7 linked regions of the Homo sapiens genome follow. The protein of the gene in region 6 purifies or fractionates together with the protein of the main gene of each other region. This does not show direct contact. Each region holds a gene or a part of one and is shown on either strand. Other genes may lie near its edges.

Evidence for each region.
Region 1: the proteins of C3orf18 (region 6) and NCAPD3 purify together in Homo sapiens (affinity purification with mass spectrometry; one large-scale study listed by BioGRID and IntAct). This does not show direct contact.
Region 2: the proteins of C3orf18 (region 6) and USP24 purify together in Homo sapiens (affinity purification with mass spectrometry; one large-scale study listed by BioGRID and IntAct). This does not show direct contact.
Region 3: the proteins of C3orf18 (region 6) and XPO4 purify together in Homo sapiens (co-immunoprecipitation; 2 studies listed by BioGRID and IntAct, with this or other methods). This does not show direct contact.
Region 4: the proteins of C3orf18 (region 6) and BTAF1 purify together in Homo sapiens (affinity purification with mass spectrometry; one large-scale study listed by BioGRID and IntAct). This does not show direct contact.
Region 5: the proteins of C3orf18 (region 6) and THADA purify together in Homo sapiens (affinity purification with mass spectrometry; one large-scale study listed by BioGRID and IntAct). This does not show direct contact.
Region 7: the proteins of C3orf18 (region 6) and PRMT3 purify together in Homo sapiens (affinity purification with mass spectrometry; one large-scale study listed by BioGRID and IntAct). This does not show direct contact.

Annotation. Positions count from the first base shown.
Region 1 is NC_000011.10:134,217,468-134,220,967, forward strand, and holds part of NCAPD3 (condensin-2 complex subunit D3), read right to left. Parts: intron 3,260-3,500; coding exon 3,105-3,259; intron 3,025-3,104; exon of another isoform or gene 2,924-3,024; intron 1-2,923.
Region 2 is NC_000001.11:55,208,865-55,212,364, forward strand, and holds part of USP24 (ubiquitin carboxyl-terminal hydrolase 24), read right to left. Parts: intron 1-3,500. UniProt on the Homo sapiens protein: Ubiquitin-specific protease that regulates cell survival in various contexts through modulating the protein stability of some of its substrates including DDB2, MCL1 or TP53.
Region 3 is NC_000013.11:20,776,829-20,780,746, reverse strand, and holds the end of XPO4 (exportin-4), read left to right. Parts: 3' UTR 1-3,418; downstream 3,419-3,918. UniProt on the Homo sapiens protein: Mediates the nuclear export of proteins (cargos), such as EIF5A, SMAD3 and isoform M2 of PKM (PKM2). In the nucleus binds cooperatively to its cargo and to the GTPase Ran in its active GTP-bound form.
Region 4 is NC_000010.11:91,986,270-91,989,769, forward strand, and holds part of BTAF1 (TATA-binding protein-associated factor 172), read left to right. Parts: intron 1-2,884; coding exon 2,885-3,311; intron 3,312-3,500. UniProt on the Homo sapiens protein: Regulates transcription in association with TATA binding protein (TBP). Removes TBP from the TATA box in an ATP-dependent manner.
Region 5 is NC_000002.12:43,295,539-43,299,038, reverse strand, and holds part of THADA (tRNA (32-2'-O)-methyltransferase regulator THADA), read left to right. Parts: intron 1-3,500. UniProt on the Homo sapiens protein: Together with methyltransferase FTSJ1, methylates the 2'-O-ribose of nucleotides at position 32 of the anticodon loop of substrate tRNAs.
Region 6 is NC_000003.12:50,557,748-50,561,247, forward strand, and holds the end of C3orf18 (uncharacterized protein C3orf18), read right to left. Parts: intron 3,318-3,500; coding exon 3,170-3,317; intron 1,991-3,169; coding exon 1,910-1,990; 3' UTR 1,400-1,909; coding exon of another isoform or gene 917-1,399; 3' UTR 278-916; downstream 1-277.
Region 7 is NC_000011.10:20,488,716-20,492,215, reverse strand, and holds part of PRMT3 (protein arginine N-methyltransferase 3), read right to left. Parts: intron 1-3,500. UniProt on the Homo sapiens protein: Protein-arginine N-methyltransferase that catalyzes both the monomethylation and asymmetric dimethylation of the guanidino nitrogens of arginine residues in target proteins, and therefore falls into the group of type I methyltransferases.

The sequences.
Region 1 (3,500 bases), on a different chromosome or scaffold from region 6:
CTCAAATTCCTTTACCAATAATTACTAACTGAGGAAATCAGAGCCCTTTATTTAAATGTTCTGCAGATTGCAGGCAATGGGAGCAGGAAATGAAAGAGATCTCGGAAATGGCCCAGGTAAAGGAGATAAACCCTAGAAAAGAAACCACAATTGTATTAATTCTATCTTCATTCCATGTCTTCTCCTACTAAACACATGAAGAAGAAATGGGTTATTTTAATAACCTAAACATAGCAGGAACTAAATATGGTTTATCCTTGAGTATCGTAACAAAAAAAGGCCCACAAAATTCAAGTGAGCAGAGCACTCTCCTTTCCTTAACTAAAAAACTTACGGGAGAAATCATCTCCACTGGGCACAATGGCTCATGCCTGTAATCCCAGCACTTTGAGAGGCCAGGGCAGGAGGACTGCTTGAGCCCAGGAGTTTGAGAACAGCCAGGGCAACAAAGCAAGACCTTGTCTCCACAAAAAATAAAAAATTAGCTGGGCGTGGTGGCACACACCTGTAGTCCCAGCTACTCAGGAGGGTGAGGTGGGAGGCTCATGTGAGCCCAATAAGTTGAGGCTGCAGTAAGCTTTGACTGTGCCACTGCATTCCAGCCTGGGTGACAGAGCAAGACCCTGGTCTCAAAAAAAAAAAAGGGGGGGGGGGGAAGAAATCATCTCCTAACTTTACAGTGTCACATCCTCATTCCTAATGCCACCTGCACCTCCACTTCACACACGAGGGTGATCGATCACCCTAAACCATCTGCTCACCAGGGCTCTGCATATGGGGTCACCTTGGCCCCATGTGATCCCATGGCTGCTGTCTAGTCTGGGCGTCAGTGACCCTGCACTCCCTACATGTGACTGCTCCTCTGCAGACCCCGTCCAATCAGCTCTCCATTTCTGTCCTGGCTGCTTCTCACCCTCGGTGATCTCATGCATCACTGTGCTTCAACCCATACCTCAATTTAAAGAACTCTCTTCTCTCTCCTGGTCTCACATTTCTACTACCTGTTAAACTTCCCAAGGATCTCCTGACAGAATCTCAAGTTCAGAAGTCTAAACAGAACTGTTTCTCCATTTGACCTTGCTCTTTTTCCCTTATTCCCCACCTTGGTTAACAATATCATCATCTTCCTAGTTTTGAAACCCTGGGGATCACTGACTTCTTTCTTTTTCTAATTCCCTATGCCCAGTCAGTTTAGCACTTCACACCATGTTTTTAAGATATCTCAAAAGGGCTTCCTAGTTCACAAGGCCCTATTAATTCTAATTCCAAAAATGTCCCTAGTTTTTAGTCTTCCTTTCCAGTTCCCAAAATTGTAACTCCGGATCATGCCATTATTACTCATAACACCTGGATCACCAATACAGTCTCCCAAGGGCTCTCCCTGCACACAATTTTTCCCACTTCAGTCCACCTACTGTCAAGAACGTCTGCTTAAAACAGATCTATTCATGTTACCTATCTATTGCCCACTGTAACCTCTTTCACACAGGCTGCTTGAGGATTAAATGAGTTAATACATGCAGGACGCTTAGAACAAAACCTCATACACACTCTACCAAACATGTTCAAACTCCACTGCTGAACCTCACGTAAAGCTACCCGTGACCTACCCTTACTCTACCTTACCATCCCGTTCCACCACACTTTTTCTGTATGCCTCTTGACACTTCCTGCGTGTTCCCATTGGGTGGCTCCTTCACTAGGACTGCCTTACAACCCAAGCTTCTGCTAGTCATCTGTGAAGATTCGCTGCTGGCCACTTTCTTTCTGGAACTTTCCCAACCCTACCATGCTCCCTTTTTCACACCCTATGCAACAAATCCGCACCTCTCTTGGAGCATTTTTCACAGTGTGGTTCGTAGAATATTTCCAGGCGCCCAAATGCACAGTGGCACTGAACTCTCCACCCCCTGCAACTGCATGTGGCTGCTAGACCTACTTTGGCTAGTGTTCAAATGTCCACTCTTCCTCCCTGAGGTCCCTGGGGAGGACCTCAACCTAGGGAGATTGTATCGTAATCCCCACTCTGTCAACTCAGGTACTTAAGGCAGTGCTTAGTGTTATGCTGAAGGAATGTTTAATTAGATGATTTAATTTTGTGATGTGAAACTTGGAAGTGAATTTTTTTTTGTTCATTTAAATGTTTCAGAGATGTTAATATCCAATTAGCTTTTGTTCTGTTTCCCAACCCTTTGGTTTTTTTTGAAAACTAACAACCTAAATATTAATAATAATTTATATTTCTATGCATTGGATAGAACTCAATATTTACAGGAACTGTTTGGACAAACCTGTTAATTCAACTAGTCATTCCTCAGTTTAATAATATCAGATTTTCTTTTTTTGTGAGACAGAGTCTTGCTCTGTCGCCCAGGCTGGAGTGCAGTGGCGTGATCTCGGCTCACTGTAACCTCCGCCTCCTGGGTTCAAGCAATTATCTGCCCCAGCCTCTCGAGTAGCTGGGATTACAGAAGCCCGCCACCACAACCGGCTAATTTTTGTATTTTTAGTAGAGATGGGGTTTCACCATCTTGGTCAGGCTGGTCTTGAACTCCTGACTTCGTGATCCACCCACCTCGGCCTCCCAAAGTACTGGGATTACAGGCATGAGCCACCATGCCTGGTCGCAGATTTTCTTAAAGTTAAGGTTAAGGCATGTCTGAATTGTTATTTGCATTTTCCTTGGTCTAGTTTTCTTGTTTTTGCCTTTATATTTTTCCTTTTTTTTTTTCCTTCTGAGATGGGGTTTTGCCATGTTGCCCAGGCTAGTCTCAAACTCCTGAGCTCAAGCAACTGGCCAGCCTCAGCCTCTCAAAGTGCTGGGATTACAGACGTAAGACACCACACCCGGCCTTATACTTTTCCTTTAATTTGCTATTGTAAAAAACAGTCGTGTCTTAAAAAAAAAAAATCAGACAAGTACCTTGAAGCTTTTGGAGGAAAGCTCTTAGGATATTCCAATAAATTAACCACATTCTTTATGTTACTCATATTGTACTCCCTGTGAACTGTACACCAAGAAAGCTAAGCTTCAGATTATAATAATGACTTTCATCTTCTACTTCTAACACCAAACTTTGGCTAGTTTGTTTTTATATTTTTACCTCCATAGATCCATGTTCTCCAGTAGCAAAGGGTAAAAGGCTTTCATAGAGTTTTGTGAATGCAGCCAATCCAGTCTCTATGATCTCTGCTTCTATGCTGGGATCCAAAGGCTCAGTCTCTGTGAAATCCAGTTCCCACACTGTGTCAACCCATTCTAGGGGAAAATGCAATGAAATGTGTAAGTACTCTGTAACAAGTAAAAAAACTAGTCACCTTTAGATTCCAGGTGTGTTCAAGAGGAGAAAAGTTTACTAGTCACGATTCACATTTAACTTGTTTTAATAACATAGGTGTAGCATAATAAAAGAAAACCAGAAAAGGTTAAGAGAATCTTAAATCACAACTGACACTGACTATTAAGCTAATCATCTTCTAAAAATATAAAGGAGGAAATA
Region 2 (3,500 bases), on a different chromosome or scaffold from region 6:
GGCGGACGTTGCAGTGAGCCAAGATCACACCACTGCACTCCAGCCTGGGTGAAAGAGCAAAACTCCATCTTAAAAAAACAAAACAAAACAAAAAAAACCCAATAATGTCACCTACTATCAATATGAGCTTAACGAAAATTTTTATGTCAGTTGTGACTGAAAAATGTGATAACACTAAACAATAAAAATTCCTATGATAAAGAAAATGAAAAATACAAGCTTAAAAAAGGAAGTAAAACTCCCTAGAAAAAAAAGGGAGGAAAAAAACATTTACTCTTTTGAAAATGAAGCACAACTCTCTTAGTCGTACCTCTGCAATCTAGTATCATGACTGAAATGTCCTCACATCTGAATTTTCCAGGTGTCTGAAGCCTACTTCTTTATCCATCCAACTTCTTCTTTTTTTTTCTTTTTAAAAGGAAAACCTTTCTAAAATACATTAAACATTCCTGACCCTTCTTAAGCAGACCACACTGGAACCTCTTCTTGACTGTGACATCATTGAAAACACAGTTATCCTCTCAGGGCCATGAAACACATAATAAAGCTGTTTCAAATCACCCTACACAAATCGGCTAGTGTGATTTGGTTGAGTCGGCTTTTAAAGCTTTCCTGTTCCCTCCTTGACCACTAAGCTGCTACTGTCACTTCTCACTATTGTCAAATGAGCTTGTCTCTAAGAGCTCATCACCTTGTGTTTAGATTGCCATAAAACCATTCTAATTTGATAGGAAACCTAATATTGAAACTTGTTTGAACTGTATTTTTTGTTAAGTTTAAACACAAATGAAAGAAATGCATGAGCTTTAGTGCACTTAGAGCGCTTAGTGAGTGGAGTGCATGAGCTTTAATGCATGTACGAAGGTGTTCTGAAATGGTTCCATCTTATGTGTTTACTTCTTATTTCTCTCTGTGGTTCCATATAAGGAAAATTTCCAGGAAAACTGAACTCCAGATTTCAGATTCTACTAAATCTTTTTTAACATTTTCTTATTAAAAGTAAAAAACGCCCTCCTTCACACTCAGATCAAGTAAATGGTATATGATATTGTAGGCAGTAAGTATAAAAATACTTAAGTATATGGACATATTTTTCTATTAATGTTGAAACCTTTTCCTCAAATTGCTAAAACATTACAACATTTGCTTTTCTAACATTGAAATTGTTTTCAAAATTTAAGCTAACAATATTATTATGCTGTATAAAGCTGTCACAACCTACTATGATTTCACTAAAACCACACTCACAGACACACGAAAGGTACTCTCTTCATGCCAAATTACATTCATTCTAAAAGTGAATGGGCAGGTAATTACAAGGTGAGACTCCAACCATTAGATTAACTCACAGACCTAATTCCCAAAGGAGATATATATACATATACTGGATCAGAAAGAAATTCTTATTTAAAAATTAGGCCATGCTGATTCATCTTTAATTCCCTATTTTTATTTCATCTACTTTCAACTGATTTGGGAAATTATTTCATTTTTTTACTCTAAAGCCTTTAAAGGGCCTTTTTTTATTTACCAAATCACAGTAATTCATAAACCACAGGTCATGTACCAAATCACTAATAGTTAACTAAAAGCTACTCATTTGATATTTACTCCACACTCATACTAGGGTTGTTGTATTTTAGGAAAAGAATAACATGAATTTTACCATAAACCTTAATTATACACATTGACAGTATTACAATTTTAATCCATTTATAATTACCACTTACTACCAAAGGGGAACAAGAGAAATAGGAATGAGGTAAGTTAAGGAACTACAAATTAATATGCTTCTTATTTTTATGTGACTTAGATATATTAACAGCAGGACCAACTTTGGGGCTCTAAACTTAAAAAAACAAAAAAGCAATGAAATCTTGAAAGTACTCCTGACAAAACAATACCTCCAGAAAGAACATCCACATTAAAACAGGAACAAAACAAGGAGTTCACAATGTTTATCAGATCACAGTATTAAATGTCACTTCTGGGAATATTAATTAACAGCACTAGACAGCTAAGAAAGGTATTTCCTCAGTTAATATGAAATCTCCTTCCAAAAACTTCCATTTTAGTATTTTCTAAAGACAAACTTAATGAATAAGGTATTCATTATAGTATTAATGTTTGATGGTATTCCTTATGGATAAGGTACATTTCATAATTGTTAAGTTCTGTGAGATGCACAGGATACCTGGTTCAGATTTCTACTGATCCCCTGGAGAGATTACAAAGGCCCAACTCTTCCTGTTGTGTAGAGAACAGAACCAATTGGTACGCACTTGGCAGGCCAGAGTTTACATTAGCCATGCAGTAAAGAGTGAAGAATTCTGACAGGGGGGTGGTTAAAAATCAGAATAAGTTATTTAGAGCAGCTGTGAGAGCTCACTCTCTTTAATAATAGAACAGACTCTTATGTGCCGTGGAATGATTTTGAAGTAATGCTATTCAAAATCAAAACTGGACAGCTTCTCAAAGTCCCTTCCAGACCCAGAGACCAAGAACATTTACATCCAACAATACTAGTGAGAACCAAACACATCTCTTCTGCAAAACACTATCTTTACTTAATTGGAGGATATTAACAAGGTGGCTTTCTATGCAGTTGTGTGTTTTGCTAGATATCTGGGTCTTTTTTATCTGCATTCTCCTTGCTTCTACTGAACCGGAAGTTAACAGCTTTCACTGTTCAAATATTAATTTTTAAACCAAACCCTAATTACAGCAGGGCCTCAAACTGATTTACCTAACTAGCTACATGACCTTGGACAGTCTTTTCTTGTAAAATGAGAGGCTTGGACTAAGACCCACTAGAATGTAAACACCACGTTCTGTTCAACACTCTACTCCCTGCCCCTGGGACAGGAAGGCATTAAGAGAAAACCATTGCTATCCCCAAACTACAAATATAAAAAAACTTAAGTCATTTCTTTCTTTTCTAATCAATTAGATTTTATTCTGTTTTTCCCATTTTTAAAGAAGACAATGACACTGAAATGTCCTGTGCAGCAAATAGAAATGTATATAATTTAAAATAAGGTACTCAGTTTTTAGAAATAAAAAGGATTAACTATATAATAGCTGACAATCTTCACCCAGTTTTTTTACTCTTCTTCCTTCCCTTTAACCCATTACTGTGTCCCATTCCTTTTTCCTTTGAAAGAGAGCCCGAAAGAGTGCAGGACTTCAAGCAAAAGGGCCTGAGTACTAGCCCCACCTCTTCTATTAACTGACTCTGTGGGGACAAGCCACTTCCCCTTTGGGGCCCGAAAGGGTGCATCTGTTAAACAAGGGAGCTGCACTAATTATTAATTTCTAAAGTATGCTTCTTTTTAAAAAATCTGATTCACCTTATATTCTACCCATTATTCGATTCTTAATGGTTGGTGCTCACCACATCATTGCACAGTAGCCTTAAAATATGTCTTTCCCTCATTATTTCTCCTTACTATCCATACTGTTACCAAACAAATTTAATCCTAAAACCATGAGTTGAGCAG
Region 3 (3,918 bases), on a different chromosome or scaffold from region 6:
AGACAGTAGCATGTTAACATCACTGCATTGAGTTTTTGTCTGGTGTAAAGTATGACTTTTAATGTAAACAAACTGCAGGTTTTTTTCAAACTAATTTTAAGAATTTAGTCTTATTTCGTTGTAAACTGTGTATCTAATTATATTACATTACTCTGTTCAGATGGGATGGTTACTACCACTTGTCCATGATTTTCATTTGAAAAGCAAGTATCTATATCATTTCCCCCCAGTCAGCATTATTTAACACTCCCCTTAACTGTCTTTGAACTTTCTCTTTTAACAAAAATGTCAAGTCTTTATAGTTGTAATATCACCATGTTTCCCATTTCTGTTAATACTTCTATGAACCCCTAAAGTATTGAAGGGAACTAGCTGTCAGTTTCAAGGATTACAAGTTTGAGTCTCCTAGTATTCAACATCATTCTGAACCCTGAAATAATATTTTTCTCTGTTAAACAATTTTTATCTGTTTGCCACCTCTGTTGTTAGAGGTGGTTGTCAATTGACCTTACTAAGTTAGCTGTCTTTGATGAGGAATTATTGTTATTGGTTCCTGAATAAAACATTAACCTTTTAAGTCAGAAGGAACCTCGGTACTTCTTAAGGTTTGTTTGTGTTTTCTAAAACCAGAGAATAAGGAACTGATTTGGCTATGAGGTTTAACATTATAATTTTCTGTAAGCTTTCCCACAAAAAAACATTGTTGATTTGAGGATATAATAATGTTTTAATCTTTTTAAAATATAAGTGGTTATTCTCTGACTTGGTAACTATGTTCTGAAAACACTGCATTTAAGAATTTTTAAAAATTGGTTTTCTAAAATTAAAATGTCCAAATTAGGCATATTGCTGAGCTCAAATTGATGTGAAATGCCATGGTTCCAGTTGAATTTTAAGCATATTTTCATTTAGATATAAAATATATGAAGTATGCTTTGTTGATTATAGTGAGAACCCATGACATAGTTAACCAAAGAATATGTTTGGTTCAAATAAAAATAGAAGCTTAATACTGGGCATTCATACTTTTTAAAGAGAATGAATGAAGAAATCGGTTTCCTGCTGTAGTTCTCTATGGGTAAGTCTTAGTAAAGACGAGAATGCTGAAGTCGGCCGTGGCGATTCCCTCCTAGGAACTGGGAGGTGTGGCTTGCCCATTACCCGCTTGAAGCTCACATCTTTACCCTCCTCTCCCACTGTGGTTTGATCTTCACCTATTCCCAGGCCCTCCCAGCAATTGGAGAGGTGTCTTTTTTTTTGGTTTTGGTTTTTTTTCTCCCCGTCTGCATTCTTAGGCCTCTTAGCTATTAGGAACTGTCAGATACATACTAGTAGCTAATTTTCCTAGCCTGAAATTATATACTGCATCTGCACTATGTACCTACTAGGGATCTGACCTCAAGTGTTTTCTGAGCCCAGGCTTCCTGGTGTGGTGTCTTTTACCACATAAAATTATTACAAATTGCAAATGTTGGTATTGTGATTTGATTATCTGTACAAAGAAAGAAGCTCTATGCAGTGAGTTTGTGGTTTAATGGTCACAAAAATGTTAGCACTGCTACCACTCAGCACGTGTAAAATTTTTTAAATTTATAAATATTAAAATTTTAAACTTACACTAAGACTTTTCAGTTTTATTTAAAGACCCAGGGATGAGTGTACTGTTTAAATATTTACCTCTATTAACATAACTAATGAAGGTATAAAATTGCATTTAGTTTTTCAGAAGATGCTGCAATATGATTTTAGGAAATAAGGCTATGTATTGAGCCAGTTATAGGCTGAATATCAGGTTGATAAAATTTTATTTGTATTTTTAAAATTCATAAATGGGAGTTAAAATGTGTCTTTTCACTAAATATTTTTATTACATTTTTGTTTTGACCATGTGTGATTTGTTCATGGGTATTTAGCTAGACTCTTTTATGAAATGCATTGAAATGGTGCTAGTTTGTTTACCATTATAGGAAGATTGACACTGGGGACATTACACGGTCCTAAAATAATTTTAAATTTAAAAAAATGAAGACATCTGTACAGATAAAAATCAAGATTTGCATCACCTTCTGGGAGAACCCGTGGTACTCACAGAATATCCAGTATTAGAAATATAAAAATTTTGTCTATATTTTATAATATTTATCTCAGCCCACAGTCTTAGAAACAGTTTCACAGTTACTAGTTAAGTCATTATCTTTGGTGCATATTTAGTAAATACTTTTAGCAAGTCATTCTTTTTGGCCTTTCAGGGAAAGTGGTGAATTACCATATTACTGTGTGCTAGATAGATCCACCCTTTGCCCAGTGTTAAATCTTGTAAACATATGAAGTGAAAAGTTAATTTTTAAAGAAAATGCATCTTTAAAATGTTCATTTTTAACCTGAATTTGCTTTGAATATTCTTTGATTTGTAATGTTGTTATTTAGCTTATATTGAGATTTATTCCACTCCAAAGGTGGATAAAGAAAAGTTGTTTAAGAAAACCAATTAGAGTGTATTTTGAATTTTTGTTTCTTTCATTACCAAGTGTGGGGCCATACACACAGGCTAATCATCTGTCATTTGAGACCCACAGATGATTTCAAAGGTCCCAAATAAATACACATCTATAACTGTTTTTTAAAAGACATCTTTAATGGTGCTCTCCAAAAATACAATTCGGTTGCTTATGAGTGATGCCTTTGACAGGCTGATTAGATTATAAAACAGTTTTGTTTTTTTAAACATAGGGTCTCAGATTGAGTCTTGTGCATTCTATGTAATCTCAAATGGCAGTTCAGTTTGACTTTCTTTTAAAACTAAGTGGAAATGGTATATTTGGTGAAACTAATGAAAGAATCTTTTGCTGGGAAATTCCATACAGCACCCCCAGCAGCATCCTGTCTCAGTCTGGCGTATAATTCAACCTCCTACTGAGTGTCCCTGTAAATTATTTTTAATATATAGCATGAGAGTGAACTGAGGTAAGTCATTGATGTTTCCCAGAGATGATGAATGAACAAAAGCAAATAGGATCTGCTAAACATTTTTATTCCCACAGTAGTGAGCAGTTTTGTTCTTGTTTTGATAATGTTCATTTCTGCCTAATCTTAGGCTTCAAATACACCTTTAAGAAAGCCCAAGATGTATTGAGTAGTAGAACTTCTTATTTGTACACCTGTTTATAACTGCACTGCCCTGGATGTTATGGTTATTTCTAAGGACTGACCTGGTAAAGCTACTTGAACTGGTAGACTGCAGGGTAGAGGCAGACCTAGATTCAATGTCTAACTAAGCTGCTTAGGGCTTACATTAATTTCCACAGGTCTGTTATCCATATCATGAGTTTATAAGTGTTCCTCCCAAAGAAAAAATTTAAAAGTGATGGATGAAATATAATAGTAGATGCTCAATAAATTCCATTGTATTTAAAGATTATTTCTGAAAACAGATTTCATTTCATTAGACAAATGTATCATAACACTAAGTCTGATACCTAATAGTCAATTGCTTTTAAATACATGCTGTAATATCTTCATATTGATACTACGTTATAGCCCTAACCACAACCACCCTAGGGATATTGGGGTAGACTTCACCATATTATTTACTGTACTTTTTTTTAAAAAATGAGAAAATGGATCTATTTATGTTAACTATCTTAGTCTGTTCTATTTAATTCAACTATCTTACTCTGTGCTATTAGAATACCTGAGACTGAAGAACAGAAACTTACTTCTTTCATTTCTGGAGGCTGCCCTTTGACTTCCATCATGTGGAAGAGGCAAGCAAGCCATCACCAGATGGTGGCGAGAGAGAATCAACTCCCTCCTTCAAGCCCCTTTGTAATGGGACCTAATTTTATTCATTAGGGAGGAACTCTCTTGGCCTAATCACCTCTTAAAGGCCCCACCTCTTCATACTGGCACATTGGCAAC
Region 4 (3,500 bases), on a different chromosome or scaffold from region 6:
TATGCTGTGTATCTGGGCCATTTGTTCAATGTATTTGTCTTTCCTTATGCCAGCATCCATGCTTCATTACAGCAGCTTTGTACTTAGTAAGTGCATGAGATTAGGTGTAGTATATATGAGTTCTTCCTTTTTTGAGTTATAGGATCAGAAATTGAGTCACTTCATTTGTGTTGGTCCCCATGAAAATAGTAATCTTCATTTCTTATCCCCATTTCTAGTTGAAAAATAATATAGTTGAATTTTTTTGTTCTCACCTGTGGAGAGAAAGCTAAAATTGCTGTTTTTTTTCCCCCTGGGTTCTCTTCTTTTATAAAGTTATTTTCCCGAGTGTTGTTATTCTGTAAGTTTTCCTTTTTGCCTCCTCTCCCTACTTTTTTGCCTGTCTGGAATTAAATCTCAAATTTTCTTTATAGTCTAGGTTCCCTGCCTACTATTTCTGGGAACTTTCCTTTTTTAAGCTCATCAAATGGCCCCTTCTTTAAGATTTGCTTATTCAGATCTTTTACTCTTCAGTTGTTTTGACTTGGGCTAGAAGATAAGCATAAATATCAGAATCTCTGGGAGAGACTTTTTTTCTTTTTTTTTTCTGTAAGGGACTTTTGAGGGAAGGGCAGTTTTCAAAGGAGCCACTGCCTTTTGTATCTTCATTGAATCCCTGTTTTCCTGTTACCTGCCAAATATAGACATTTCCCTGCGATCTTTGTCTCTTGCACCATTCTCATGATTTAGTTCCTACCCAGGTACTGTGTGCTGTCTACTCTCAGTCTTTCTTACGTTCTTCTTTTAGGCATTTTTACTTAAATATCTCACTGTCACTTCACACTGAACACAACAAAAACTGGCTTTTTTTTTTTTTTTTTTGACAAAGATACTCTTTTTATTCCAGTCACAAATCTTGTCAGCATTTTCTTTCAGAAAGTCTCATGTGTTTAGGCCGGGCGCAGTGGCTCACGCCTGTAATCCCAGCACTTTGGGAGGCCGAGGTGGGTGGATCATGAGGTCAGGAGATCAAGACCATCCTGGCTAACATGGTGAAACCCCATCTCTGTTAAAAATACAAAAAATTAGCCGGGCGTGGTGGTGGGTGCCTGTAGTCCCAGCTACTCGGGAGGCTGAAGCAGGAGAATGGCGTGAACCCAGGAGGCGGAGCTTGCAGTGAACCAAGATCACGCCACTGCGCTCCAGCCTGGGTGACAGAGTGAGACTTGGTCTCAAAAAAAAAAAGAAAGTCTCATGTTTAATCTCTTCTCTATTTCCATTATCAGAGCCCAGTCAGATCTTAGTACTTTATATCTAGGTCCTGACTCATCTCTAGGGCTCCAGGCAGCCTCTGGTCCATTTCATTCTGCATGTTGTGCTAGACTAGCAATGCTCTTTTTGTGCCACCCTGAACATCCCTCTCCTGCTTAAAAACATTATTTTCCTTTTCCTTGCTTTTTCATTTTTATCTTTCTTCTTTTCATCACTTTCTTCTAAATGCTCTATCTCTTATCTCCTCATTATTTCTCAAACTTTCTCCACTCACGCCCAGTTAGCTTTCTTCTTGCGCAAGTACGCTACACTTATTCACTTCTGCTCATTCTCACTTCTGGGCCCGAGCTTCTATTTCCTTTGCCAGGAATTCCCCATCCCTAACCCTCTGTGCTTATCCAGAGTTCATCTCTTTTTCTGTGTGTTGTGCTCAAGCTATGATAAACTTCAATTCCACAGACAGTGTCCTGTTTTCCACTCCCTACCTCACTTTGTTTGCCAAGATGTCCCTATAATCCCTGATTGGCCTGTTCTTTAAAAACCAAGCATAAGTGTTATCCTCCTCTGACAAGTCTCCCACTAATCTCTTCTTCTAAGAAGGAATAAGGAGTGCTCTGTATTCCCACAGCAACTTGCACTTACCTCAGTTATATGTTACATTTTCTTAATTATTTATATCTCTCCCACATTAGTCTCTGCATTTTTTGAGCATATTAAGACATTATATCTTATTTATCTTTTAATAAATATTGGTTGAATGATTGAATTAATTTGGGGGTAACTGAGGCTTTTCCTCAGTTGTCTACAGTCATTGAAAAGTGACATGAGCATAGTGGATTTAGGACAATGTTTTTAAACTTTTAGCATTGTAACCCTGTTTCAAATAAATCTTATACATTGTACATTTCAAATGGGTAGTTTTTATGGTATGCAAATTATATCTGAATAAAGTTGTTAAAAAAAAGACTGACTGAACAGTCTTTCAATGGGGCTTGCAAAGTAGTCTGGTACAACAGTCCTGTAGCCTTAGATAGCTCTTGGTAATTAAGTGAATGATAACTGCACCATTTTGTTCTGTTCTGTTTTGTTTTGTTTTGTTTCTTTTCCTTCTTCCATTGCCTGGGCATTTCCACCAGAAGGGAGGTTAAAGAAAGAAAGAGAATGATTCAGTTAGCAACACTTAGCCACTTAGTAAACAGCCACTCTTAAGTTTTCACGAGTTTTAGAGTTGAAAAGAATATTTTTCCCAAAAAGAAGTTTGTGAGTTTTGGAATTCCTTCATGAACAGTTAGTTTATATTTGCCTGTAGCTTTCTTGTTTCACCAGAGTATTCTGCGGGTGTTAAATGTGATTTTCCTCAAAGTCATTTAGACATATTTAAAGGTTAGATAATTTTATTCTTCTCAAGAGAATGTCTTTCTTAAAGAATATAATGCTAATGTTAAATTTTAGTCAGATTAAAATAAAATTTAGTTGGGAAGTTTTAGACATTAGTTTACTGAGTACTAAAACAATATTACATATTGTGGAAACCAAAATTGAAACAGAAAGCTTGCTGTCTACCCTTTAGGAGCTTACAGTCTATTTGGGGTTGATATGATTAATGATTTTTAATTTCTTTTTTTTTTAATAGGTCACTACTGTTTTTAATGAAGCCACATCATCTTTCGATTTAAATCCTCAAGTGTTACAACAGTTAGATAGTAAACGACAGCAGGTCCAAATGACAGTTACAGAGACCAACCAGGAGTGGCAAGTGTTGCAGTTGAGAGTGCATACTTTTGCTGCCTGTGCAGTTGTGAGCTTGCAGCAGCTTCCGGAGAAATTAAATCCTATCATAAAACCATTAATGGAGACAATTAAAAAAGAAGAGAATACACTAGTGCAAAACTATGCAGCTCAGTGCATAGCTAAACTCCTTCAGCAGTGCACAACAAGGACGCCCTGTCCCAATTCAAAAATTATTAAAAACCTCTGTAGCTCACTTTGTGTGGACCCATATCTAACTCCTTGTGTCACATGTCCAGTACCAACACAAAGTGGCCAGGAAAATTCTAAAGGTATATACCTAAACTTTTATTTGGGGTAGAGAAATAACCTTTTAAATTTGTTTTTGTTTACTTATGGGTATAATTTAAGCACAAATCCAGTTCATGTTAGTGTTTTTTCCCATTCTGAGAGAAAAGGCTTGATTATAACAAAACTCTTTGTTACATGAATTTGCACATAATACTTACCAGTCACAACCC
Region 5 (3,500 bases), on a different chromosome or scaffold from region 6:
TGTGTTGACTGCATTAGGTCAGGTGTGGAATTTTCCACTTATGGCACCATTTCAACACGTAAAAAGTTTCCGATCTTAGAGCATTTTGGATTTCAGATTTTCAGATTAGAGATGCTCAACCTGTATATGCTTAGGAAATACTTAAAGAGTTAATACTCAAGTCACAGGCAGTGTAGGTCAAGAAGTCCCAAAGGAATGTCTACCTTCATTACACTCATCAGCATGCTTGCTCCCCATCTCCTCCTTCTTTGGGGTAGTGCCTTCATTCCCTGGCTTCCTGGTGATATCATCCCTTCTTAAGGCCCCAGACCAGAAAAATGGGTCTGGGTGTCCAACTCTCAAGTCCAGCAGACTATACTTACACTCAGCCTGGACTATATCCAGAACAGCCCAGATAGTTCTTCCTGTTGTTAATTACAATTTTTTTTTTTTAATTTTTTTTTTATTGATAATTCTTGGGTGTTTCTCACAGAGGGGGATTTGGCAGGGTCATGGGACAACAGTGGAGGGAAGGTCAGCAGATAAACAAGTGAACAAAGGTCTCTGGTTTTCCTAGGCAGAGGACCCTGCGGCCTTCCGCAGTGTTTGTGTCCCTGATTACTTGAGATTAGGGAGTGGTGATGACTCTTAACGAGCATGCTGCCTTCAAGCATCTGTTTAACAAAGCACATCTTGCACCGCCCTTAATCCATTTAACCCTGAGTGGACACAGCACATGTTTCAGAGAGCACAGGGTTGGGGGTAAGGTCACAGATCAACAGGATCCCAAGGCAGAGGAATTTTTCTTAGTGCAGAACAAAATGAAAAGTCTCCCATGTCTACTTCTTTCTACACAGACACGGCAACCATCCGATTTCTCAATCTTTTCCCCACCTTTCCCGCCTTTCTATTCCACAAAGCCGCCATTGTCATCCTGGCCCGTTCTCAATGAGCTGTTGGGCACACCTCCCAGACGGGGTGGTGGCCGGGCAGAGGGGCTCCTCACTTCCCAGTAGGGGCGGCCGGGGCGGCTGGCCGGGCCGGGGGGCTGACCCCCCCCACACTCCCTCCCGGACGGGGCGGCTGGCCGGGCGGGGGGCTGACCCCCCCACCTCCCTCCCGGATGGCGGCTGGCCGGGCAGAGGGGCTCCTCACTTCCCAGTAGGGGCGGCCGGGCAGAGGCGCCCCTCACCTCCCGGACGGGGCGGCTGGCCGGGCGGGGGGGCTGATCCCCCCCCACCTCCCTCCCGGACGGGGCGGCTGGCCGGGCGGGGGGCCGACCCCCCCACCTCCCTCCCGGACGGGGCGGCTGGCCGGGCGGGGGGCCGACCCCCCCACCTCCCTCCCGGACGGGGTGGCTGGCCGGGCTGAGGGGCTCCTCACTTCCCAGTAGGGGTGGCTGGGCAGAGGCGCCCCTCACCTCCCGGACGGGGGGGCTGGCCGGGCGGGGGGCTGACCCCCCCACCTCCCTCCCGGACGGCACGGCTGGCCAGGCGGGGGGCTGACCCCCCCACCTCCCTCCCGGACGGCACGGCTGGCCGGGCGGGGGGGCTGACCGCCCACCTCCCTCCCGGATGGGGCGGCTGGCCGGGCGGGGGGCTGACCCCCCCCCACCTCCCTCCCGGACGGGGTGGCTGCCGGGCGGAGACGCTCCTCACTTCCCAGATGGGGTGGCTGCCGGGCAGAGAGGCTCCTCACTTCTCAGACGGGGCAGCTGCCGGGCGGAGGGGCTCCTCACTTCTCAGACGGGGTGGTTGCCAGGCAGAGGGTCTCCTCACTTCTCAGACGGGGTGGCCGGGCAGAGACGCTCCTCACCTCCCAGACGGGGTCTCGGCCGGGCAGAGGCGCTCCTCACATCCCAGATGGGGCGGCGGGGCAGAGGCGCTCCCCACATCTCAGACGATGGGCGGCCGGGCAGAGACGCTCCTCACTTCCTAGATGTGATGGCGGCTGGGAAGAGGCGCTCCTCACTTCCTAGATGGGATGGCGGCCGGGCGGAGACGCTCCTCACTTTCCAGACTGGGCAGCCAGGCAGAGGGGCTCCTCACATCCCAGACGATGGGCGGCCAGGCAGAGACACTCCTCACTTCCCAGACGGGGTGGCGGCCGGGCAGAGGCTGCAATCTCGGCACTTTGGGAGGCCAAGGCAGGCGGCTGCTCCTTGCCCTCGGGCCCCGCGGGGCCCGTCCGCTCCTCCAGCCGCTGCCTCCCGGGCGGCCGTTAATTACAATTTTAAGAGCAGATTTCTGAGCCATATTTCTGACTGTGCCAAATAAATGAAATTCCTTTTGAATGTAATGCTGTCCTCTAGCAGCAGTGGGTAGGAAGGATAGGGAAATGGTACCTGGAGATGATAGTACTGTGCTCTTATTATTATTAGATTGTTATGAGATTCGGTTTTTAGACATTGAAACAGAGATGACACAGAGGTTGAAGATCCCAGCTGCCCAGGGTTTCCCCCACTGCTTTATAAAGATACTGCCTGGCTGGGCTCAGTGGCTCCCACCTGTAATCCCAGCACTTTGGGAGGCCGAGGCGGGCAGATCACCTGAGGTCAGGAGTTTGAGACCAGCCTGGGCAACATGGTGAAACCCTGTCTCTACTAAAAATACAAAAATTAGCTGGGTGTGGTGGCGTGTGCCTGTATTTCCAGCTACTCTGGAGGCTGAGACAGGAGAATTACTTGTACCGGGGAGGCGAAGGTTGCAGTGAGCCAATATTGTGCCACTGCACTCCAGCCTGGGTGACCGAGGGAGATTCTGTCTCCAAAAAAATAAAAAAATAAAAAGATGCCTCCTGGTGAGCTGGGAATTCTGCAGTGTCTGAGTTAAGAGTAGCGGTATGGCCGGGCACGGTGGCTCACGCTGTAATCCCAGCACTTTGGGAGGCTGAGGCGAGCAGATCACGAGGTCAGGAGTTCGAAACCAGCCTGTCCAGCATGGCAAAACCCTGTCTCTACTAAATATACAAAAATTAGCCAGGCGTGGTGGCATGCTCCTGTAATCCCAGCTACTCAGGAGGCTGAGGCAGGAGAATCACTTGAACCCTGGAGGTGGAGGTTGCAGTGAGCCGAGATCGCACCACTGCACTCCTGCCTGGGCGACAGAGCGAGACTCCATCTCAAAAAAAAAAAAAAAAAAACAGTAGAGGTTTGTCTGCAGCCCCAGATGGTGGCCTCCCTGGGGTCCCATCATGTTGGAGCCCAAGTCCAGTCCCCATTTTGCCCCCTGTGACAGACTTTGAAACAATTTGATGTGTTACATAAATACTCTATATTTTTAAATCTCGAATTATTGCAAGTCTATGCAAATTTTCAATTTCAAATAAATTTTTCTGTTACCTGAATGTTTTACATATGCATTATGTTTATGTTAGTTTTCTAGAAGTCAGCAGAGTTCTCTGAGTTATAATGAGATGATAAATATAAACGGTGTTTTATTAGCTATAAATGCGTATCACTTAAATGCTGTCTGGTAAGCCAATCCAGGATAAACTTGTTAACATCTTGGGTACAGTTGTCA
Region 6 (3,500 bases):
GCCCCCTTCCTCCTCCGGTCTCACAAGGTCCTGTCCAGTTGACCTTTCCACCCTAGGGGGTGACAGGCCTTGGGACCCCAATCCACAGTTGGGAAATGAAGCCCCAGGGCAACCTCGAAGTCAGGGCCAGAGGCATTTCCTCAGACGGCTCAAGAGAAACCTGGGGTGCCACCTCATAGCTGTGATCCAAGCAACTATCCCCAGGCCCCCCACAGCCCCTCACCCATCCTGCCCCTCCTAGGGTTCCACACCCCAAGCGTCACAGGCTCACACACTCTCCATGTAAACATCTTCATTACATCTTTAATGCTCTCACGTGGAGCTGCTCTGGGTTAAATTACAGCTGTATGCATCCTGAATTCCTGGCAGCCTCCAGTCGACTCAAGTGCTAACGTATTTATAGCATTTAGAGGAGGGAATAAATCCAGAACCTTCCCCATGGGGGCTTCCTAGGCCTTTCCCTCCTGACACATGGCATTTGCCCAGTGGAAGGTCTGCATACACTACCCCTGCATCCCCTCCAGCCAGCAGCGGACAGTGACGGTGGAGAGGCTGGGCACGGGACATGCCTCTGTGCATGCTTGTGTGCATATGTATGCCCAGCGTAAAAAAATGCCCTGCTCTTGTGGTCTGTCTCTGCCCAATGGCTTGCCAGGACCCCTGGTATCAGCCCTGACCCTCCAAGGCTTATGGAGAGGCCAAGTGCAGGGACCCATCTCCCCACTCTCTAAACACTGAACGGCTCTTCCCATAGATGGGATGGAGGTGGGGAATTCAAACATAGACTAAGTTTTTTAGATGTTTTTCTGAAGTGCAATCCCTCACCCACTTTCAGGCAGTCATAACTGCCCCCTCTAGCCTGCAGCCTGTGATTACTGCCCTCAGACCAACAGCCTCTCCCAACCCCAGATCCTCATTAGAGCCCAAGACAGGGAGCCGTTTTCAGAAGCAGGTGAGCCCAGTGAAACAATGCAGTGGAGAGAGGAACCGTGCTGTGCGTGCTTCCCTCTTCCCTGCAGTCCCTGAAGATTGAAGGCAGAGAAGATAGCCTACCCTGATGCTCCACTACATACCATGGGGTAGAGGTCGACTTGGAGGGTGGGGCCAGTGTGGACAATCTCATTCTGCCCGCTGTGCTGGGACAGGCACATGTCTGCCCATGGGCACACTCATGCACATGCATGAGGCCTCTCGGCAGGTCTGGGGGGGCTGCATCCTTCCACTTCCATTCCCCTACTTCCTTCCCCCTCAGCTCCCATCCTAGCTTGGCCCCAGTAACATCTGGTTGCCAAGGATGGGTGGCTGGGAGACCTCCTGGACCCTCCGTAGTATGGATGGACCCTGGGTGTGAATTGCCCTTCTCCTGGCATCCTTGCATACTGGACAGTTTCAGCTCCATCTCTGGGCTTCTCAGGGCCCATAACAGATGCTGCCCTACCCTGTCCCTATAACTTGGGTGGTTTCCTCTCCCCACCCCAGAGGAGGCTCCAGATTCCAAAAAACAGGTCTCTCCCTAACAGAGGGAAACCTCCCCTTTCCTCCCCCAATCCCTCCCACTCCGTATCTCCCTCATTTCCTCCACATTAGCGGGGCAGACCCTGATGTGAGGGATCTGGACAGGGGATGAGGAAGCCAGCAGAGGCTCTTGACCTTCTCAGCATGAGGGATGCCCTCTGTGCCAGGGCCCTCAGGTCAGGAGAAGTCAGTGGTCAGAAGTCCAGCCTGGCTAGGGCCCTCTCTTAGAGTCTAAAGTCAGCAGGTGGGTCTGGAGAACAGCTAGGACCTGGCTCAGCCCTCTTGTGTCTTGGCAGGGAAGATCTTCAGAGTAGGTCTTGACAATCAGGGAGTGGGGAGCTCTGTAGGCACCGTGATGGGTCTCTATCAGAAGTCCAGGCTTGTCCCAGGCCACTCACGCATGGATGGCATTGGCCACATCGGTAAACACCAGCCGGCTGGGTCTCTGCAGTGGGCCCTGGGAGGGCAGAGTAGTCTGCAGGAAGACAGGCAGGGGCATCAGAGACCATGGGCAAGGCCATGCACTCACTGGCCTGGTCACCTCCACCCTCACTTCCTGGTGCCTGCTTATGCTTGGCACTAGCAATGGCTTCTGCCTGGAATGCCCTCCCTGCAAGCTCAGCCTACAAATATGACTTGGCTCAGATGACTCCTCCCCAGCTTGCCCTGTCACCTTGGAGGCACTTACTGTGTTGATTTAATTATGCATGCACTGCCTTTTCCCAGTGGGGGATCAGAGGGCTGGACTCTGTATCCCCAGGCCCTAGCACAGGGGCTGGTACAAGGAGGAACATGGGAAACAAGTATCAAGTGGCCAGAAGTCCCAGTGGCTGGGTGGACCAAGGTTCTCAGTGCGAGTTCCTGAATATCCCAAGGGGGCAATATATCTTGACCCAGGTGATGCAGAGCTGGTGGCAAAACCAAAGGGTCTTCAGACTTCCAGCCTGGATTCTTTCTGAGCCCAAGAAGACGCAAAGAGGCTGGATAAGTCAGGGGCAGGCCAGGCCTGCTCATGGTGCTCTGGCCCTTGGGGATTTGGGGAAATGGTGGCAAGTGGTCAGGCAGCCCAGTGGTTACAACAGGATGGCCACACAGGTACCTATCCCTTTGGACACAGGAGGCAAGTTTGGCTGAGATCTTCACATGCCTGGGTCTGTCAGCCACTGGGAATCCACCAGCCTACTCAGAGGTACCGCTGTCCAAGAGTCTAACCCCATCCACAACCCACTCAGGACCACGGACCCTCAGGAAGCAGAGGAACCTGGGGTCCTAGCCGCCAACAGTCTCTCCCATTAGTCCTTTCCTACTTTCCTAACCAGTACGTGGGGGCACATGGGGCAAGAATTAGGATTTTCAATTGTGGAAGAGAACACTGAGGCTCAGAGATGCCAGTGGGGCTCCCAAGATCAGCAGGCTATGGGGCAGAGCCAGGCTGTATCCCAGGACTGCCTTGGCCTGGCCTTGCGCTGTGAGTTTGTGGGTGGCCCCAGAGCAATATGACCACTTTCTGAACAAATCTGGAAAAAGCCGTATACCCAATACCTGCCATCTGACCACAAGGCAGGTGCTAGAAAGCTGCATGAGAAAGGAGGGAGGGTGAGGGTGGAGGACAGAGGATGCTGCAGGCGGGGTGGGGAGCCTGGTCAGTGCCCACCTTGCCCTGCATGGCCTGCACAGAAGTAGCAGCCTGTACAGAGGCGGCGTCCCGCCCATGCTCCAGCAGCTCCTGCTCCAACTCATCTTGTTCCTCCGTGGGGTCGAAGTTGTACATGGGCATGAGCTGGTGGCGTAGCTTCTCCAGCCTGGGGATGGGGGCAAAGGCTGCTGGGGACAGGGCAGGCCCTTCCCCTCCCAGCAGCCCTCCAGGCCCTGCCTCCTGACTAGCTGAGCCACAGCACACAACCATGCTTAGGGCCTTAAGGTTTCCCTTGAAATGGGAAAAAATGACAGACATTTTTGCACCTATAGTACCAGCTCAACCCCTT
Region 7 (3,500 bases), on a different chromosome or scaffold from region 6:
CTGGCCCATAGGATACAATACAATACAATATTTGATGAGCAAATGTGTTTATTATACATTCTGTTATGTTAGTTACGATAGTATATTACAGTTTGCCTTATACTGCAATTTATTTAAGAGCAAGGCATATGTATAACTCACTTCTATGCCCCTTACCCAATACAATGTTATATAGTAGGTTCTCAATAAATTTTAGCCAAATTAAAATTTTTAGTCTTCAGTCTCAAATATGGCTAGCTTTATTACATAGTCAGTATACTTTATTAAAGCATTGACTAACTGAACTTGAATGGAACTAATAATTTTTAACTCTGAAAAGCATGGAACATGTGGGACAAATATGGAGAGGAGAGAGCTAGAAAAGATCTAATTCTGTATGTAGGAAATGCAGAAGTCTCAGCCTAACCCCCAAATTACGCATTTTCAGGTGAGATCCAAACCCACACAGCAAAAGCTTAGAGCATTGAACTAAAATTTGAATCACTGCTGCAAGTCTCAGGATTAACCTCTGGATAAAACATGCATGGAAAAAAAACCGAAACCAACAAGTAAAGGCCTAGAGAACTGACGTGAGATTGGAAAAATCTGTAAAAGTCTCAGACTAATCCGTAAACTAGGTATGTGTAAGACAGCCTCAAAACAGCATAACAAAGGCTTAGAGAATGTGACTGAGACTTGGTCAACTGTCTGCTCGGACACTAAGACAGAACTTATGGTCTGATTTTAACTGGGCTTGACTGCTAACAACAAACATCAACATCCTTAAGATTTTAACAAGACACACAGTTTACACAACATAGCATGCACAACATCTAAGGTGCAATCTCAAATTACTCAACATACAAAGAATCAGGAAAATTGAACAACTCTCAGGAGAAAAGACAAGCCACCTCTGAGATAATCCAGATGCTCAAACTATCAAGCAAAACTTTAAAGCAGCAATTATAACCATGTTCCAACGGTGACAGAAAACACAATGGAATGAATCAAAAGACAGAAATTCTCAGCAGAGAAACCATAAAAAAGCACCAAATGAAAAATTTTCAATTGAAAATTATAATAACTGAAACTTCCGGGTTGAATAGCAGAATGGAGATGACAGGGAAAAAATCAGTGAATTTGAAGATTGATAGAAATTATCCAATTTGAAGAAGGGAAAAAGACAGCAATTAAAATGCATGTTATAGAACCTTGGAGACCTATAGATCTAACGTGTCATTGGTGGTCCAGATGGAAAAGAAAAAGACACTGATGGAGAAAAAAAAGTTTTAAAATTCTATATCTAGACAGAATGAATGAAGGCATTTTCAAGTCAAGGAAAAGTAAAGAAATTCATTGCCAATAGACTTCCTCTAGAAACATTTTAAAAGAAGTTCTTCAGAAGGTAAACTGGAACAACAAGAACAGAAAACCCATAGTTCTAAAACATCCTTTTGTTTTCAAAATTTTTAGTGTACCTTTTAAAATTGTTTTAAACTCATGTAACAGCCTCTCATCTTTCTGTAATTATACTTCTATAACTGTTATATTTATTGCCAGTCTTTTTTTAATCAGAATTAGAAATGCTTCTCTTCATGTATCTGAAGATGTCACAAAAGCTGCTTTTAAACCCAAATTTTCACAAAAGCTCTTATTAGCTTACTAGGATTTATTTTTCCCCACATTTTTTGGGGGGCCTCCCAAAGCACTGGGATTACAGGTGTGAGCCACCACGTCCAGCCACACATGCTTATTAATCAATCTCCAAATCTGTGTATGAATTTCAGTTAAAAATTTCCAGCCCTTAATAATATAGTGAAAGAAATACTGGGAAGTTCTGGGTAACCAAAAAATAAGTTTTAAGACAAAGAAAAATGACAGATATAGTTAACTTCAGTTGTAAGCACTGGAAAGAATCTATGACAAATATCTGAAATTGCATCTATGTGAAATGCCTCACAGTATCTTTGAGTCTTCAAGCACAGTCACATTTCTAATGAGGTTTGGTTTACAGTAATACTCAGTTCCACAGCACACATTAAACAGAAAGCAGAAGCATGAGGAGAAGTTAGGAAGGAATTCACCTAAAATTCAAACTGTGTGCAGATAATCTATCTACTCACTAGACAGCATTCGTACAGTTGAGAAAGTGGAAGATTGCTGCTCTGAAAAAAACAAAGGGAGTTTCTGGTTTTAAAATGGGTGTCTACCCTCAAACACCAACATGATCTAGAATGCCCCTTAAAGAGACAGGGTTTGTGGTGTTACCTTTTTTTCTTTTCTTTTCTGTGTGATTCTTATTTTTAAAAATTTTTATTTAATTTTAGAGATGGAGTCCCGCTATGGTGCCCAGACTGAAATCAAACTCCTGGGCTTAAGGGATCTTTCTGCCTAAGCCTCCTGAGTAGCTGGGACAACAGTTGCATGCTACTAACTCTTAATTAAAAGAGATTAAGAAAAAAAAAAACCCCTTCAATTTGAAACATAGTAATATAAAACCAAATGAATTATGATTAGTGTTTTTATTTCTGCAAAGCTATTAAATAAGGAATAATGATATAACCAAATATCAGCTGATTTAGGAATAAATGACTTATTTTGTCAGGAAAATATAAACATGCCACTATTTTCAATTACAGTTTGGCCACCTTGCTACCATCACTTTGACAGGCTATCTTAACATCTTTTAAATGTTAATTTCAATGAATATACATTATCTCTGTGGAAGTCATTCAAATATAAGAATAAACAACCATAGGAAATAATGACTAATAGGCAATGGCAACAAATAACTAACTGGAGCTACAACTTGACATATGCTCGTAAAAGATCAGAGAGGTCTGAAGGCTGACTGCAGAAGAAATTTCTCCTTTGTCTCACGTATATATCTTGTTGGGGCAATGAGAACTGCTGAGGGGGAAAAAAGCATTAAAATCTATCTGTAGGAGTTGGGTTAATCTGCAAAGGCAAGGTCACAGTTAAATAAAATTTCACTGAATTATACCACAGTCAGAAAAATTTATAACTAAAAGTTTAGTTATAAAAGTCCCTTAGAGTGAGAGAAGGGAGAATGAGTGGTAAGTAGTAAAAAAACAAAAACAATGATAGAAGAAAACAGAATGAAAGGAAACTACGTATACATAGTGAATTTCTGGGATAGCTTGATCACTCTTGATATTTTGTGAGAATCCTCGACAATTACTTTGATGCACATAGGAAAATACAAGCATGGAGCTCTGTTGTACATCTTAAATATTCCTCAGCATGTAATAGTTTCAGAACTCATCTTTTTGTGGATTTCACAAAAAGAAAACTCATGGCATTTGTAAACTGAATCATGAAAAAATCTGTTTTAAGCCATGTTTTGTTTATATGTATAAAGGTAAATGCAGTTCATTTAATATACACTCATTTGAAGAACAATGATTTGGGATAAAAAATGACTTTCTCAGGTATTTTAGTGTGATGAATATTTCTTTAAAGAGGACACATTGTGTGTATGTAATAGGATGGCAACCAAT